Homo sapiens: one gene and its partners. Changing the gene in region 1 together with any one later gene gives a genetic interaction. Each region holds a gene or a part of one and is shown in the gene's direction. Other genes may lie near its edges.

The links.
Region 2: changes in FAM98B (region 1) and ZNF574 together harm fitness less than expected from each alone (positive genetic interaction), as found in Homo sapiens cells (one large-scale study listed by BioGRID).
Region 3: changes in FAM98B (region 1) and EGFR together harm fitness more than expected from each alone (negative genetic interaction), as found in Homo sapiens cells (one large-scale study listed by BioGRID).
Region 4: changes in FAM98B (region 1) and RPL28 together harm fitness less than expected from each alone (positive genetic interaction), as found in Homo sapiens cells (one large-scale study listed by BioGRID).

What each region holds. Positions count from the first base shown.
Region 1 is NC_000015.10:38,467,627-38,471,126, forward strand, and holds part of FAM98B (protein FAM98B), read left to right. Parts: intron 1-2,600; coding exon 2,601-2,779; intron 2,780-3,500. UniProt on the Homo sapiens protein: Positively stimulates PRMT1-induced protein arginine dimethylated arginine methylation.
Region 2 is NC_000019.10:42,074,850-42,078,965, forward strand, and holds the start of ZNF574 (zinc finger protein 574), read left to right. Parts: upstream 1-1,316; 5' UTR 1,317-1,437; intron 1,438-1,634; exon of another isoform or gene 1,635-1,655; intron 1,656-1,696; exon of another isoform or gene 1,697-1,761; intron 1,762-1,779; exon of another isoform or gene 1,780-3,510; intron 3,511-3,737; coding exon of another isoform or gene 3,738-3,757; coding exon 3,758-4,116. UniProt on the Homo sapiens protein: May be involved in transcriptional regulation.
Region 3 is NC_000007.14:55,158,517-55,162,016, forward strand, and holds part of EGFR (epidermal growth factor receptor isoform a precursor), read left to right. Parts: intron 1-1,622; coding exon 1,623-1,822; intron 1,823-2,982; coding exon 2,983-3,115; intron 3,116-3,500. UniProt on the Homo sapiens protein: Receptor tyrosine kinase binding ligands of the EGF family and activating several signaling cascades to convert extracellular cues into appropriate cellular responses.
Region 4 is NC_000019.10:55,384,603-55,388,731, forward strand, and holds the start of RPL28 (large ribosomal subunit protein eL28), read left to right. Parts: upstream 1-1,329; 5' UTR 1,330-1,363; intron 1,364-1,747; 5' UTR 1,748-1,755; coding exon 1,756-1,836; intron 1,837-1,967; coding exon 1,968-2,091; coding exon of another isoform or gene 2,092-2,150; exon of another isoform or gene 2,151-2,438; intron 2,439-2,682; coding exon of another isoform or gene 2,683-2,687; exon of another isoform or gene 2,688-3,117; intron 3,118-3,327; coding exon 3,328-3,446; coding exon of another isoform or gene 3,447-3,614; exon of another isoform or gene 3,615-3,640; coding exon 3,641-3,730; 3' UTR 3,731-4,129. UniProt on the Homo sapiens protein: Component of the large ribosomal subunit. The ribosome is a large ribonucleoprotein complex responsible for the synthesis of proteins in the cell.

The sequences.
Region 1 (3,500 bases):
TTGGCAATTCTTTTGACTTGGCAATTGTTTGTCTATGAATATATATCTATTTCCCCAAGTGTACAAAGATAAATGAAAACCATGTTCATTATGACATTGTAGTAATAAAAAGACCAGAAACCTGAGTGTCCATAAATATAGATAAATAGAAGTGGTACATTAATGCAGTGATGTCACTAGATAGGTAATAGGAAGAATGCAGATAAATCAAATGTGCTGATGTGGAATGATCTCTAAGATATGTTGGTAAATACAAAATAAATATACAGGACATGTATAGCATGTTCTTGTTTGTATAAAAGGAACAAACGCACACAGATGGCTACTAGGTATCTTGAATACATACACACACACATGCCTAAAAGGATACCCAAGAAATTAATGGTGATTGCCTCTGGGAAGGGGGAATCTAAGGATCTGCAAAAGGAAGAAGGCTTAATTTTCCCTCTACTGCTTACTATCTGCATGGATTAGCATCGTAAATGCTAAACCCTTGTTTGTACTATTACATGGAGAAAGCATGTTTCCATAGAGCAAAAGTAGACTTCAGCCAAGGTTCTGTCTAAAATATAAATTTTTGAAAAACTGGCAATCTGTTTTAATCAAGTTTAATCAAGTTTTTATTATGAGATGGGGTCTCACTGTGTTGCCCAGGCTGGAGTGTGATGGTGCGATTGTAGCCCCTCAAACTCTGGAGCTCAAGCGATCCTCTCATCTCAGCCTGCATAACTGGGACTACAGGCGTACACCACCATGCCTAGCAAATTTTTAAAAAATATTTTGTAAAGATGGGTCTGTGTTGCCCAGGTAGGTCTTAAACTCCTGGGCCCAAGCTGTCCTCCTACCTTAGCCTCCCAAAATACTGGGATTACAGGCCTGAGCCACCATAGCTGGTCTTAATGAAGTTTTTAAGTCAGAAGGACCTTAGTATAGTCCTCATAAGGAAAGTTTAATATTGGTCTTAAAGTTTAATAATTGATCTTAATATTTTGGTACTTGACTCTTTAAACTGTCATGTGTAGACTGCATGGAAAAGTCTTTAAACCAGTGACCCTCAATCTTGCCTGACCTTGGCAATCATACTGGGTCTAAAACAAACCACACACAGATGCCCAACTCCTACTTGTAGATCTACTGTTCAGAATCTCAGAGGATGGGACCCTGGCACCTGTACTTTTAAATTGTTTTTCAGATGTATTTTTGCTCAGCTGAAGTTAAAACTGCTATATTAAATTGTGGCGTTTGTGTCTAATTTTAACTAAACAAATAAAAACAAAGTATTTATTTATGTATTTTTTGAGATGGAATCTTGATCTGTCACCCAGGCTGGAGTGCAATGGCACGATCTCGATTCAGTGCAACCTTCGCCTCTGGGTTCAAGCAATTCTCCTGCCTCAGCCTCCCTAGTAGCTGGGACTACAGGCGCATGCTGCCATGCCTGGCTAATTTTTGTACTTTTAGTAGAGTCGGGGTTTCACCATGTTGGCCAAGCTGGTCTTAAGCTTCTGACCTCGGGTAATCTGCCTGCTTCAGCTTCCCAAAGTGCTGGGATTATAGGTGTGAGCCACCACTCCCAGCCAAAAACAAAGTCTTACCTACCGTAGTGAAGAGTCTGTTTAAAACAAGACTATAATCATTTAAGATTTTTGAGTAATTTTCTTAAATATGGCTATTGAAAGGATTAGATGAAACGGTGAAAGTAAAGGGACTTGTAAACAGTTTGGGGTGATTTATCCTGACTCAAATTGCTCTATGTGCTTATATATCAGTTAGAGCTATATGTTCTCCCCTGACCTGTGTGCTCTGTACATATAAGACAGAGAATAATTTATCAGAGTCTTACACATTCTTGTCTGTTCTTAAATTGTTGATTTGGTGGTGGGTCTCAACTACTGGATTTTATACTCTTTGAGGGTAGGCATCATATCTTCCTTGACTTGGCATCCCCATTGTTCACACCGTTCCTGGCTCAGAACAGGTCCTTGGTAGACATGTACTTACTGAAATAGCAATCTAGATCATTTAATATGTTAATTAAAATTGAACTGAAACCAGCTAGTGTGAAATCGAAGAGAATAAAATAAACCATTTCTCTTTTTCCTGGTAGTATTAAATAAATTCATTTTAGTTTTTTGCTTGTAGTGCCCTTTTTTTTTTTGTACCCATTCATCTGTTTCAAACTAAGTCTTAGGTTAAACCTCTCTAGGTAAAGTAGATGAAAGTTACGCTGCTGTTTTCTGGGGGCCTGTATCTTTGCCTGCTTAACTCCAGTAGGAGCTGCTAGGGCTCCTCCGGTGTGAAAAGAATCAACCATTTAAAGTGGCATTTACAGTGTAAATGCATTTAATAGGGTGTCTATTTTATATAGCTTTAGTTAGTTGTTTTTTCTCATTTCATTTAAAAAAACGTAACACTTGCTATGGACTAGGGAATCACTTCGTTTATAAGTGTACAGTGTTCTACAACTGTTGTTCTTTGGGTCTTTGTAAGTTGGCATTATTGGTATTAATTGATACTTGTTTTAAGTGAATAATTTCAGTGAAATATTTCAAGAGATTCTTATACATGTATTAACATTATTTATTTTCTCTTTATTGTAGTATTTTTAAGTACAGAACTTCAAGCTTCACAGATATTACAGAACAAGAAACATAAAAATTCTCAATTAGATAAAAATAGTGAAGTTTATCAGGAAGTTCAAGCTATGTTTGATACACTTGGTATACCCAAGTCAACAACTTCTGACATTCCGCATATGCTAAACCAAGTGGAATCAAAGGTATTATCTTTGTTTTATTTTCCCCAAAATTCAACTGAATGGTAACATGTAAGTGCTATATTAAAAATGAAACTATTCCCTATAATTATGAGGTATACATTTTATTTCAAGAGTTTATCTTCATATAAACCCAGTTTTGGATTCAGACTTAACAGGCATGTGACCTAATCTGTCAGTAGCTGATATTCAGGAATCAAATCTTAATGAGTTACTGGCCTTCAGCTTTGCCAGAGTTTACCATGATAGAAATCACTTAGCAAATTTAAGGATCACTTTCTTAACCAGGGTTTTAATGTAGTATAAGAAAGAAAGAAAGAAGTAGAAGTAGAGTTATCCTACAAAGTGAAAGGAAACTAAACTTTTTAAAAAATGGATGTTAATAGAATTGCAGAGTGGTTTCTTTGGCAGTGAGCATGCAGTTTTTGGTGGATAAATGTTTAGTAAGAGTAAGTGCATTATATAATGAATGGAAGAATGTATTAATTAGTACCCTGATGGGGGTAGTTAAAAACAACTACAAACTATGTACCTTATGTACTTTGGCATTTTTTTTTTTTTCAGTTACTAAGCAACTCTTGTTCCCTGTCAAGCCATATATTAGAGAGGATGCTACTCTCACAGACCAAATTCTGGCCTAGTTCCTGGGTTTCATTTGTTAAATATGCAGTCCTCTAGGGGAAGAATACAGGATTCATTTTAAAGGAAAATAAAATTCTTGCCT
Region 2 (4,116 bases), on another chromosome or scaffold:
CCTCTGTGTTTGGGTTCAAGGAGTAGGTCTGGAAATGTTTCTTTTCTTCTTTCAGATGGAGTCTCGCTCTGTCGCCCAGGCGGGAGTGCAGTGGCGTGATCTCGGCTCACTGCAACCTCGGCCTCCTGGGTGCAATCAAATCTCGAGCCTCAGCCTCCCGAGTTGCTGGGGTTACAGGCACGAGCCACCACGCCCAGCTAATGTTTTGTATTTTTAGTAAAGATGGTAGTTTCACCAGGTTGGCCAGGTGGGTCTCGAATGCCTGACTTCAAGTGAACCCGCCTCAGCGTCCCAAAATGTTGGGATTGCAGGCGTGAGCCACCACGCCCAGCCTGGAAACGTTTCTAACAGTACTGGGGCAACTCCCTCCCAAGGCCCTGAGGGGCGCAGGAACGAGGTGAGTAGGAATGGCCAGAGCCCCTTGGACACATGGGGCCCCAATCTCGAGGTGTAAGGGTCAGAGTCACCCCGGAAGGAGGTGGAGTGGAGTCCGCCCGTTACCGGCTCACTTCCTTCAGGCTCTCACCCCGATTGTCCTTCAGGTCCTCTACCCACCACACTCCCTATTTCTTCCAATGAAATTGTCCCTGCTTCTTTTTCTCCATATCCTCGCTCTCCTTGCTTCCCCTATGACATTTCTCCTCTCTCCACCTCCCAAAAGTCCCCTCGGTCTTTTCTCTGTTTCTTCCTGTTGCCTTCATTCCCCTCCTTTTAATAAAGTGAGTCTGGAACCTTGGTTTCCCTTTTCTCTCTCCATGTGACTGGTGCTGCATGCAGTTTGCCCTCTCCCCATCGCGCTAAGTGGTTTCACTTTCTCCCTCTGACCCTCGGGGAAACCACAAAGGTTCCCGTGCCTCCATTCCCCCGCTCCAGCCCTCAAGGTGCCGCGTGCCTCAATTTCCCAGGCTCTTTTCCTCCCTCTCCCTGTCCCCAACGCTGACTCCCTCACGGCGTCCCCAAAATGGCGCCCGCGGCCGCGCTCCGCCGCCTAACGTCATCGCGCCGCCCTCCGCTCAGAGTTCCCCTCTGGAGCCGTCGGAGGCGGAGTCGAGGAGGAGGAGGAGCATCCTCTAAGGAGGATTAAAGGGGCGGGCACTATCCACCCGAGGGCTGACCGGTGAGGGAACGACGCTAAAGGATTGGTTGGGCGCTGCGGGGAATCTCGACGCTCCTCACTATTGGCCCAAGCCTCAGAGACATGAACGTCGATTGGCCGAACGGCAGGGCCCGAGCGGGCAATGATTGGTTGCGTCCGGCCGTCCGTGCGGCGGCCGAGGAGGAAGGTGGGAGGGGCGTTGCTGAGGGTAGCTGGGGGCGAGAGCGAGGCTACGGAGCAGGCGAGAGGCGACGGCGAGAGCTAGAGCGGGCGCAGCGTTAGGGTGGCCGTGCAAGGGGAGCCGTGGCCCGGGCCCGGGGCGTGCGAGACGGCGGAAGCAGGTGAGCGCGAGCGGGCGCGCAGAGGCCGGCCGGGCTGCGCTCCCTGCCGCCGCGGCCTCCTCTTGCCAGGTCGCCTGCGCACTGAGGGCCTGAGGGGGTGCGCGCCGGGCAGTTAGGGCGGAGCGGCACCAACGGCCGACCCGGCGCGCGGGCAGCCGGGCGGGGGCCGGGCTGGAGCGGCGGGTGGGGAAGGGGCCTGGAGTCGCGTGCGGGGCTGAGTGAGGAGGGGCGGGGCTCGGGCTGAGGCTTTGGTGGGGCACCTGGGCGGGAAGGGGAGGCCTCAGAGCTGTCCCAAGAGGGCTCCGCGGCTCCCCAGGGTTTGGGGTAAAGGACTTGGTGGTGTGGCAAGTCCAGGACGAAGGGGCTGGGCCGGTTAGACGGCACGTGGGTGCCCAGTTAGGGGCTTAGGGCGTGAGAAAGATAATTAAGTTAATGCAGGGGAAAAATATCTAGTTCTTCCTGGAAAGAATTGGGGCGGTGAGAGGGGTTTTGGTGTGAAGACATTAGGAAATCGATATCCCCAAGGGAACGGTTTAGAGCTAAGGAGGGGTCCAGTTGTAATGGATGGGGTTAAATTAATGTGAAGAGGCCTTAAACCAATGTGTCAGGAGGTTGGGTACCCTTGGAATGCGTGGAAAGGAGTCTTTGTACAAAGAAGGATTAAGTGTATTTTAAAAGGGTGTCTGGGTGTCCCTAGAATGAGCTGGGGAAGGTAGTCTTTTTTAAGTACAGGTAATTAGGCCAAGGTGAAGATGGGATTTGGTTATTGGAAGGGGAGGAAGTAGGGTGGGAGAGATCTGTGTGCTAAAGTGAGGGGTGCCTGGGAATTCCTGGAATGAGACTGAGAGGTTGCTAAGACGCTGGGGGGTCTGAGTACCCCCAGAATAGGAGGCTGGTGAGAGGGGCTTGAGTGTGAGGAAGAGGGGTCTGTGCTGGATTAAGGTGGTGATGGAGGTTCTGTATGAGAATAGGAGGTCCGGGTATCCCTAAAGGGGGTTTGGGCAGCACGAGGGGTGTGTGTAAAAGGAGCTTAAGCCATTGTGAAAGATGGGTGTGTGGATCTTTACACAAAGAAGAGGAGTTATGTTGCTACGAAGAGGAGGGTCTGAGCATCCCTAGAATGGGTTAGGGTGGGTTGGGTCTTCTAGCAAATTAAAAAAGATTAGGTTAATAATGTGGAGGAGGATCTGGATATTCCTGAGATGGATTTGAGGGGGGGCTCTGTTTGCAAGAGAGGCATAGGTTGATATAAAATGAGGGTATGGGCATCCCTGAATGAGTGGCTGTGTATGAACAGGAAGGGTTTAAATCAATGGGAAGAGGGGATCTGGGTATCTCAGAGGGGATTAGAATTGTCGATTTGGTCTTGGTACAAAGAAGAGGTGATGAATGTAAAGAGTGGATAGATACCCTGGAGACAGGAGCTAGGGTGGTGGAAGGGCCTAGGTCCGAAGCGGGGAGGAGTAGGCTTTTGTGAAAATGGGTCTGGGTATTCTGGATAGGGGGTTAGGGTTGTAGGAGAGGGCCTTGATTTGTAGAGGAGGTTAAGTAATTAAACAGGGCTGCGTATCATGAAGTGGTTAAGGTGGGCAAAGTCTGGGTGTGGAGATGGGTTAGGCCAGTGTGAGAAAATTTGACTGGGGGGAAGGGATATAGTTTGACGTGAGGAATCTGGGCACCTGAGGAAGAGTTGGTGGGTAGCAGGGGTTGCGTGTAAAGGGGAGGGGTGGCACCTTGTACAGTGCTGAAAGTGGAGTGGTGGGGCATTGGGCAGTTTGAGTGGTCTGAGTGTAAAAAGAAGTCTGAGAACCTGGGAGAAGGAGCAGAGGCCATGGGAGGGGTGTGGCTGGGAGAAACAGGTGGGGAAGGCCTATATGGGGTTTCAGTTGGGTACCTTGGAGAGGAATGGGGTGAGGTGAGTTGGTAAGAAAAGGAGTCAGTGGAAGGAGGTCTGAGTGGAGGTTCCCATGTGCTGGGCGGAACTGTGGGGCCCACTGTGAGGTGTGGGAGATGAGGGGACTGGACAGGTTACAAGGATCTGGTGGGTGGAGTTTGATGCAAGTTGATACAGAGGTGAGACTGTGGGTAAATTCCTGGGGAAGGGACTGCCTGGGAGATTTGTGTTTGGTGTTTGTTATGCTGAGGGGAGGAAGGATTATTGGGAGGGAGGCAGAATTTTAAAAATCGAAGGAAGAACTTAAGGGGGTGTAGATCTAAGGTATTAGGAGTGGAGAGTGATGAAGGGAAGAGCTGAGGAATCGGTGACCTAACTGGTTTGTCCCCACTGTCTCCTCTTCCAGCCCAGGGCCTTGCTGCCGCCATGACTGAGGAATCAGAGGAGACAGTCCTGTACATTGAGCACCGCTATGTCTGCTCTGAGTGCAACCAGCTGTATGGATCACTGGAAGAGGTGCTTATGCACCAAAACTCCCACGTGCCCCAGCAGCACTTTGAGCTGGTGGGCGTGGCTGATCCCGGAGTCACTGTGGCCACAGACACAGCTTCAGGCACGGGCCTCTATCAGACCCTTGTGCAGGAGAGCCAGTACCAGTGCCTGGAGTGTGGTCAACTGCTGATGTCACCCAGCCAGCTCCTGGAGCACCAGGAGCTGCACCTGAAGATGATGGCACCCCAGGAGGCAGTGCCAGCTGAGCCATCACCTAAGGCACCACCCCTGAG
Region 3 (3,500 bases), on another chromosome or scaffold:
GTTGCTTCCCAGAAAGGCCTTTTTGCTCTGAATTCTCTGGAATGCTTTCTTTGACCAAGATTCTTATAAAAATAAGAGATTTAGAGCAATTTTCTTGGATGGCTGGTATGAGCCAGTTGGCTTAGTTGTAGGGATTTAAACAAGATAAGGGTTACTTACTTTTCACATTTAATGAGAAGTCTGGTGATTCCAGCTCCTACTGAGACAGGGTGGCCACACGTTCCAGGGTGTGACTCACTGAGGCCCCAGACCTGCCCTGCAAGGAAAACCTGGCTCTGCCCTGGTGTCCTGGCCTCCCTGGGCATATGTGGGGGAGAATTCCTAATGGTATTGGTTACAGGCTCCTATGCGAGACCACTCATCTGTGTAGGAGAAAGGAAAAAGATGGGGGAAAGAAGAGCAGCAGGGAGAGGAGAAGCCTCTGGATGATACTCTAACCCCCTGCCATCCAACACCTGAACATCAGTCTCTTCATCCAGTGCTCTCAGCTGGCCCAGCCCCCAGCCTGGGGTCAGATGAGAGCTTCCTGCAAATGCAGATCTCTTTCCTGTGGCTCCTTCTCAATTACAGACAGCTCCTCCACAAGGTGCACTCTGGCCTTGTGCTCCCTCCCCAAACCAGCCCAGCCCTCCCAGCCTGCATCATCGTGGTCCTGTAGGGGCTAGAGGTTCTCACACCCATCGTGGTCTGGCAGAGGCTGGTGGTTCTCACACCCATCGTGGTCCGGCAGGGGCTTAGTGGTTCTTATACCCATCGTGGTTCAGGAGGGGCTAGTGGTTCTCACACCCATCGTGGTCTGGCTGGGGCTAGTGGTTCTCATGTCCACCGCGTGCTTTCCTGCTCCTCCAGGTGGCTGAGGACATCCCCCCTTCGGTCTGAATGACTTCCATCCAGTCATCTGATATACACATTGGACCACCCAATAGCATCCTAGTGTCATGTTGGATGGTGAAGAAAATGCCACAGTTACTGCTTTCAGGGCCTCACAACCTTGGGCATAGCTTTTTGGAGGAAGGCCCCACTTCCCAGGCATCCCTCCCAGACCTGGTCAGAGGCCCCTGCTCTTTGCTTCCATGTTGCCCACACTCACTGTGCTCTTCACACCGGCTCAAAATGATCTGCTTACGGGGTTGTGTCACCACCAGATCAAGCGTCCTGGAGAGGAGGAAACATATTTAACCTGCACAGAATTTGGGACAGAGAACCTCTAGTGTTTGTTCAATAAATATATGAATGGATAGAGGGACAGGTTGGGTGGTGGATAGATGGATGAACCCACACCTTTGAAGTGTATTTGGCTGTTTGAGAGGTTAGAATATGTTCTCAATTTCCAGGCAAAATGAAAATGGAGAAAATATAATGACATTAAGGCATTTTATTCATCCTCCCCATCTGCCACTGGGTTAAAGATACTAAATAAACAAGGAACTATCTTTTGCCTGGAGGAACTTTAAAAACACCTGCAGTTTTCAAAAGGTGCAGTGTGTGCCTCCCACAGCATGACCTACCATCATTGGAAAGCAGTTTGTAGTCAATCAAAGGTGGTCTGGAGAAACAAAGTTTTCAGGGATACATTGTTTTTATAATTTTTCACCACATGATTTTTCTTCTCTCCAATGTAGTGGTCAGTTTTCTCTTGCAGTCGTCAGCCTGAACATAACATCCTTGGGATTACGCTCCCTCAAGGAGATAAGTGATGGAGATGTGATAATTTCAGGAAACAAAAATTTGTGCTATGCAAATACAATAAACTGGAAAAAACTGTTTGGGACCTCCGGTCAGAAAACCAAAATTATAAGCAACAGAGGTGAAAACAGCTGCAGTAAGTCACCGCTTTCTGTTTAGTTTATGGAGTTGGTTCTAATGGGTCCTTTATTTGTATTTAGAATATTGAAGGGCTATTCCCATTTAAATTACTTTTTTCAGTTCCTTAAGAAGCAAATTAAAATCTTAAGATTCCTAACTGTGAAATTACCATGTGAATTCCATTAAAACTTTTTCCAGATCATTACCATTCAATGGGATGAATTTACCCTGAGGTTTAGGCTACCAATTATTTGTAATGTAAGTAACTAAATTTAGTATTAGTTATATTACCTTTTAGTTGTAGGTCACTCTCTGCTCATTTCAGCCTGTAAAGACTACAGCTACACACATACACACACAGAGGAATGGAATGAGCACTTTACATCAACACTTCCTGTTCTGGCTCTAGAGCCTCAGCTTTTGAAGCTGGTGAGAGCCTGGCCTGTGCTGGGCCTTGGCCACGGGCAGCGTCAGCTTTGAGTCAAGTGCTGGTCTGGCCTCCCTAGCTTTGAGCCTCTGTCAATTCCCTTAATCTGTTTAGGCTTTGGCTTCCTCATCCATAGAATGGAGATATGAATGATTCCTACGCCGTAGTGCTTTGAGAGAATTCAGTGAAATTCCTGTGTGTAAAACCCTTCCATGGTGCCTAGCACACAGCACACAGCCAATGGCCCAATGGCTCCTATCAGCTGTGGGATTTGTCATCAGAACACCACCAGCTCTGCTCCAGGCTGCCCTGGGTACCATCAAAACACACCCTGTGCCCAGCAGCACCTGCTCCTCTGCACACCTGGTTCCTTCAGCAGGGGCAGTGGCCGTGGGAGCACAGAAAACATGGAGTCCCATCTGGTTTAATTGATGCCATTGCCAAAGGGGAGGACTCACGGCACCCCCTCTCGGGTGCCAGGGTGCCTGGCTCCCACCAGGAGGAAGACCTGTCCTCCACTGTCAGGCACATTTCAGTCTTCCCAGCAGCCAGCACAACTACTTTGTCCTTCCAGTCACGGTCGGCCTCTGGGAAGCCCAGTCTGTGTCCTCCTCCTTCAGGGGTAGCCAGCATGTCTGTGTCACCCAAGGTCATGGAGCACAGGGCCCCTCCCGGGAAGGTGCCGTCTCCTCCGGCCCCTCGGGTCCCTGCTCTGTCACTGACTGCTGTGACCCACTCTGTCTCCGCAGAGGCCACAGGCCAGGTCTGCCATGCCTTGTGCTCCCCCGAGGGCTGCTGGGGCCCGGAGCCCAGGGACTGCGTCTCTTGCCGGAATGTCAGCCGAGGCAGGGAATGCGTGGACAAGTGCAACCTTCTGGAGGGGTAGGAGGTTATTTCTTTAATCCCCTTGCGTTGATCAAAAATAAGGCTCCAGGTTGTTGTTATAGCTTTACAGGCATTCTGTTTGATTTTCTCTTCCTTTTATTCTTTGCCCTTGGCTTTTGGAGGTTTTGGGTTTTCTGTGGGGAGACGGGAAGTTGTTTGATTGCGTTATTTTTGGCAAATTTAAGCACAATAGGAAATAAGCAAGTATTATTGCCTAATATAATCCAATAATTTATAGAATCTCTTTTCCTGGAAGTATCTTAAATTTTTCTAAGCTACAAAAAGTTCCTAAGACAAATGAGACAGTCATCAATGGTTCATCTAGCCAACACCGTGGCCATTTGGGCTTTTCTTTGTAGTGCCCGATTCCTGGTGTGTGAAA
Region 4 (4,129 bases), on another chromosome or scaffold:
CCGAAGCCTGTGCAGATCAGACAGTGCAGATCAGACAAGGCCTTTAGACACCAAGGAGCTCTGGGACGCGAGAACCAGTAGTCGGGGTGATCTAAGAGGGGAAGCTCCGGGTTCCGCGGAAGCTGAGTTTCCTTCACTCAGCGCGTGTCTTCTGGGGTCTCCTGTGTTCAGCGAATGAAGCCACGGGCACAAGGACGGACGAGACCCATCAGGTCCAGAGCGCACCCGTGGAGGAAGCTGGGCGAACCCCGACTGTCCTATGGAGGATAGTCCTATGGACCAGACGAAGCCCCTGCCCCAAGGAGTGCCCGGGTGTAACCGCAAGTTAAGGAGCCCTGGGGAGGTGACACAGGCACCCTCATTCCTTTTGTTCAGTAGGAGTCTCTGAGGCCTCCCCAGCACCATGCCGCGTGGGTGAGGCCGAGGACACAGAGAAATATCAGGCAAGGCTCCTGCCCCCTTAGGGTGGCCCTGACAACGGATCATAACCTCCCAGGGAGCTGATGGGGTGTGACAGGCACACCATAGGCTGGAGGCACAGGTGGAGGGCAGGGAAGAGGACCGGCAAATCTATAGAATCCTAAAGGGAGCCAAGAGAAGCCACATGCAAATCTCCCTCCCTCCAAACAATTCTCCCTTAGAGGGCATCCGCGCTCCCCTGGGGTGGCAGTCAGCGAGAAGTTTCCGTGTAGGTTCTCCCCAGGCTTAAACAGTTTAAGAGTTTTATTTCAAGAAAACCCTGGGGAGGGCGAACTGCAAGAGGGCTGCCAGGATTAGCCGAGGGATTCCGAATGAAGACGGAGTATTTCCGAACATACACACCTCTCCCAAGAGCGTTTCCGGAGGGTTCCGAAAATACCCGAGCGGGCCTCGGCGCCCTCATTGGCCATCACCGCGAGGGCTTACGAAGACCGGAAATATCCAAAGGTGCCGGGGCTAGGCTTATATAGTTCACGCATTCACCAGTTCATTCATAAAACAAATGTTTGTTGAGCGCCCATCATATGCCAATCACAGTGACAAGTGCTGGGTGAGCAATACTGGAGAGATAACGCTGAGGTATGGGTCCCAGGACCTCTCGAATTGGAGCCACTCGGAAATCCAGCGGTAGAGTTTCGAAAACTTCCGAACGGTTCCCGGAATACGCTCTCGGCCCTCTAACCGAAGAGTTCCGAATATTCCCGAGCGTTGAGCGAATTTTCGGCGGAAGCAGCCGAACATCATCGAGCCGCCTCGGAGGTGGGGACCGACAACTCCTGTCGTGCCCGCCCGGAGAGGAAGCGGAAATGCGTGTACGGTATTAAAGGCGTCGCCTCGCCCCTCGCCTTCCTCTTTCCGTCTCAGGTCGCCGCTGCGAAGGGAGGTGAGCGTTCGTCTTCCTCGCGTGGTCGCCATCTCCGGCCCGCCGCGCACTCCCTCTCAGTCCTCTGCCTGCCTTCTCCCCTTGCGCCTCAAGGGTCATTGGCGGACCCCAACCCCTCCCCGTGAAGTCGTTGTGAATTTTCAAGTTATTTTCCCCTCACTCTCATTCGCCGCAGCTAGTCTCGGCTGCCTGAATTCGGTCCCGCCGCCTTAGGTCACTCAGTCCCGCCTGACAAGAGTTCTAGGTCGCTGTCTGCCCTCAGGGGTCTCCCATTCACCCAAGTTCCCAGTCGCTCTCTTCCTCTGCTGTCCGAGCGTGGCCCGTGGCCTAACGCTGCTTTAGTTCTCTGTGTCTGACGCTTTCCCTGTGCCCGTTTCCCCGCAGCCGCCGCCATGTCTGCGCATCTGCAATGGATGGTCGTGCGGAACTGCTCCAGTTTCCTGATCAAGAGGAATAAGCAGACCTACAGCACTGTAAGTGGGGCCCGGATGCGTGGCTCCTGCGGGAGGAGGGTCCTGAGTCTCTTGACTCTGGGTCAGAGGGCGGGACCTTCGCATGTCTCCGGGTCCCTTATTCACGATGCCTTGTGCCGCCTCCTTCCCAGGAGCCCAATAACTTGAAGGCCCGCAATTCCTTCCGCTACAACGGACTGATTCACCGCAAGACTGTGGGCGTGGAGCCGGCAGCCGACGGCAAAGGTGTCGTGGTGGTCATTAAGCGGAGATCCGGTGAGTTTTGTCTGGTTTGGGCCAGAGAGCGGCCCCTTTCCCGGGTCTGGGAGCTGTGATTTTTTACTGTCAGGCAGGAAGAGCGGTAACTGCCATCGCGGCGGGCATCCCTGGCGCCAGGGTGTTGGTCTGGGTACCGGCTTCCCTCTCGGCCGACTTGTCAGCTCTGTGAGCCGCGCGCGTCTGAGCCCGTGTCCTCACCTGTAAAGTGGAGAAATGAAAAAGGACCTGAACTTCCTCGGTGGTTGTTGAGAGTTAAGGCACGGGGTTGATGTTTTCAGATGAAATTCTCAAAGCAAGTCAGGGTGGGGATGGATGGTTTCATCCCACAGGTGGGAAGATTGAGGCACAACAGGGGAGGGGCCCTCGCTACCACACTTAGGAGGGGACAGGCTGGGTTGGTTGCAGCCATTTGATTCCCATTTTGCCTGTGTAGGTTAGAGAAGAGGTCTTGGGGACCCCACTCCATACATTGTGCTGTCAGGTGCAGGCCTTTTTGGGGATTCCCTGAATGTTCGTGTGAGTCGGGGGTCTCTAATGGAGGAGTCCAGCTTCACATGTGTTCTTGACAGGGCTGTATTTTCTTTTTAGAGTGAGTTTTTCTCAGGTCCTTGATTGGAACTGCCTCAGAGCCAAGGGTCCTTTTACTCAGTGGCAGCAACAAACGCAGTCTGTTGGCTAGTGATCCTCCTGTCTCAGGGACACGTAGTCCAGGGAGCAGCCAATTGCTTGGCACTTGGGGACCCCGTTCTGGGGAGTCCTGAAAGCTTTCACCTCTTGGATTGCCGAATACATGGGTGGCCCTTCCTAGACTAAGGGACTGGCCTGAGTGAGGCTGGGCCTCTCAGCCAAGCTGATGTTGAACCACTGCTGTGGGGATGGGCCTGGGGTTCCTGGGAAGCTGTTCATACCCATTGCCAGGAGCGTGGGCTCTGGCTGGACCTGGATCAGATCCTAACTGAAGCGGCAGCTTTCTGGCATGAGAAAGGAGTGTTTTCATGGTGGACAGAATTGGGCTATGAGTGTGGCAGAAGCTGTGTCCTCAGTACTCCGTGATGACGAGTGAGCCTCTGTGAAATGGACAGGTGGGAAAACAGCTACCTGCTGGCCTGCCCAGGCACCCGCCACGGGCCCACGCTGCTCAGCTTCTCAATGTGAGACTGTCCACACCTGCGAGGTGTGCTAAAGGTGCAGGTTAGGTGGACTGACCCCAGGACCTCCCTGACCCCCAACCAGGCCAGCGGAAGCCTGCCACCTCCTATGTGCGGACCACCATCAACAAGAATGCTCGCGCCACGCTCAGCAGCATCAGACACATGATCCGCAAGAACAAGTACCGCCCCGACCTGCGCATGGTGAGCTGGGGTTTGGGGATCAGGCTTGGGGAGACTGGCCAGTGCTGTGGGGAAGGGCCTCCCACTACTGGTTGCAATATGGGCTGGAGAGGGATGGATTCTTGCTTTCAGCCTACTCCCCACACCCAGCATTGGCCTAGGGGGCGGCTTGTGGAGTGTATGGGCTGAGCCTTGCTCTGCTCCCCCGCCCCCAGGCAGCCATCCGCAGGGCCAGCGCCATCCTGCGCAGCCAGAAGCCTGTGATGGTGAAGAGGAAGCGGACCCGCCCCACCAAGAGCTCCTGAGCCCCCTGCCCCCAGAGCAATAAAGTCAGCTGGCTTTCTCACCTGCCTCGACTGGGCCTCCCTTTTTGAAACGCTCTGGGGAGCTCTGGCCCTGTGTGTTGTCATTCAGGCCATGTCATCAAAACTCTGCATGTCACCTTGTCCATCTGGAGGTGATGTCAATGGCTGGCCATGCAGGAGGGGTGGGGTAGCTGCCTTGTCCCTGGTGAGGGCAAGGGTCACTGTCTTCACAGAAAAAGTTTGCTGACTTGTGATTGAGACCTACTGTCCCATTGTGAGGTGGCCTGAAGAATCCCAGCTGGGGCAGTGGCTTCCATTCAGAAGAAGAAAGGCCTTTTCTAGCCCAGAAGGGTGCAGGCTGAGGGCTGGGCCCTGGGCCCTGGTGCTGTAGCACGGTTT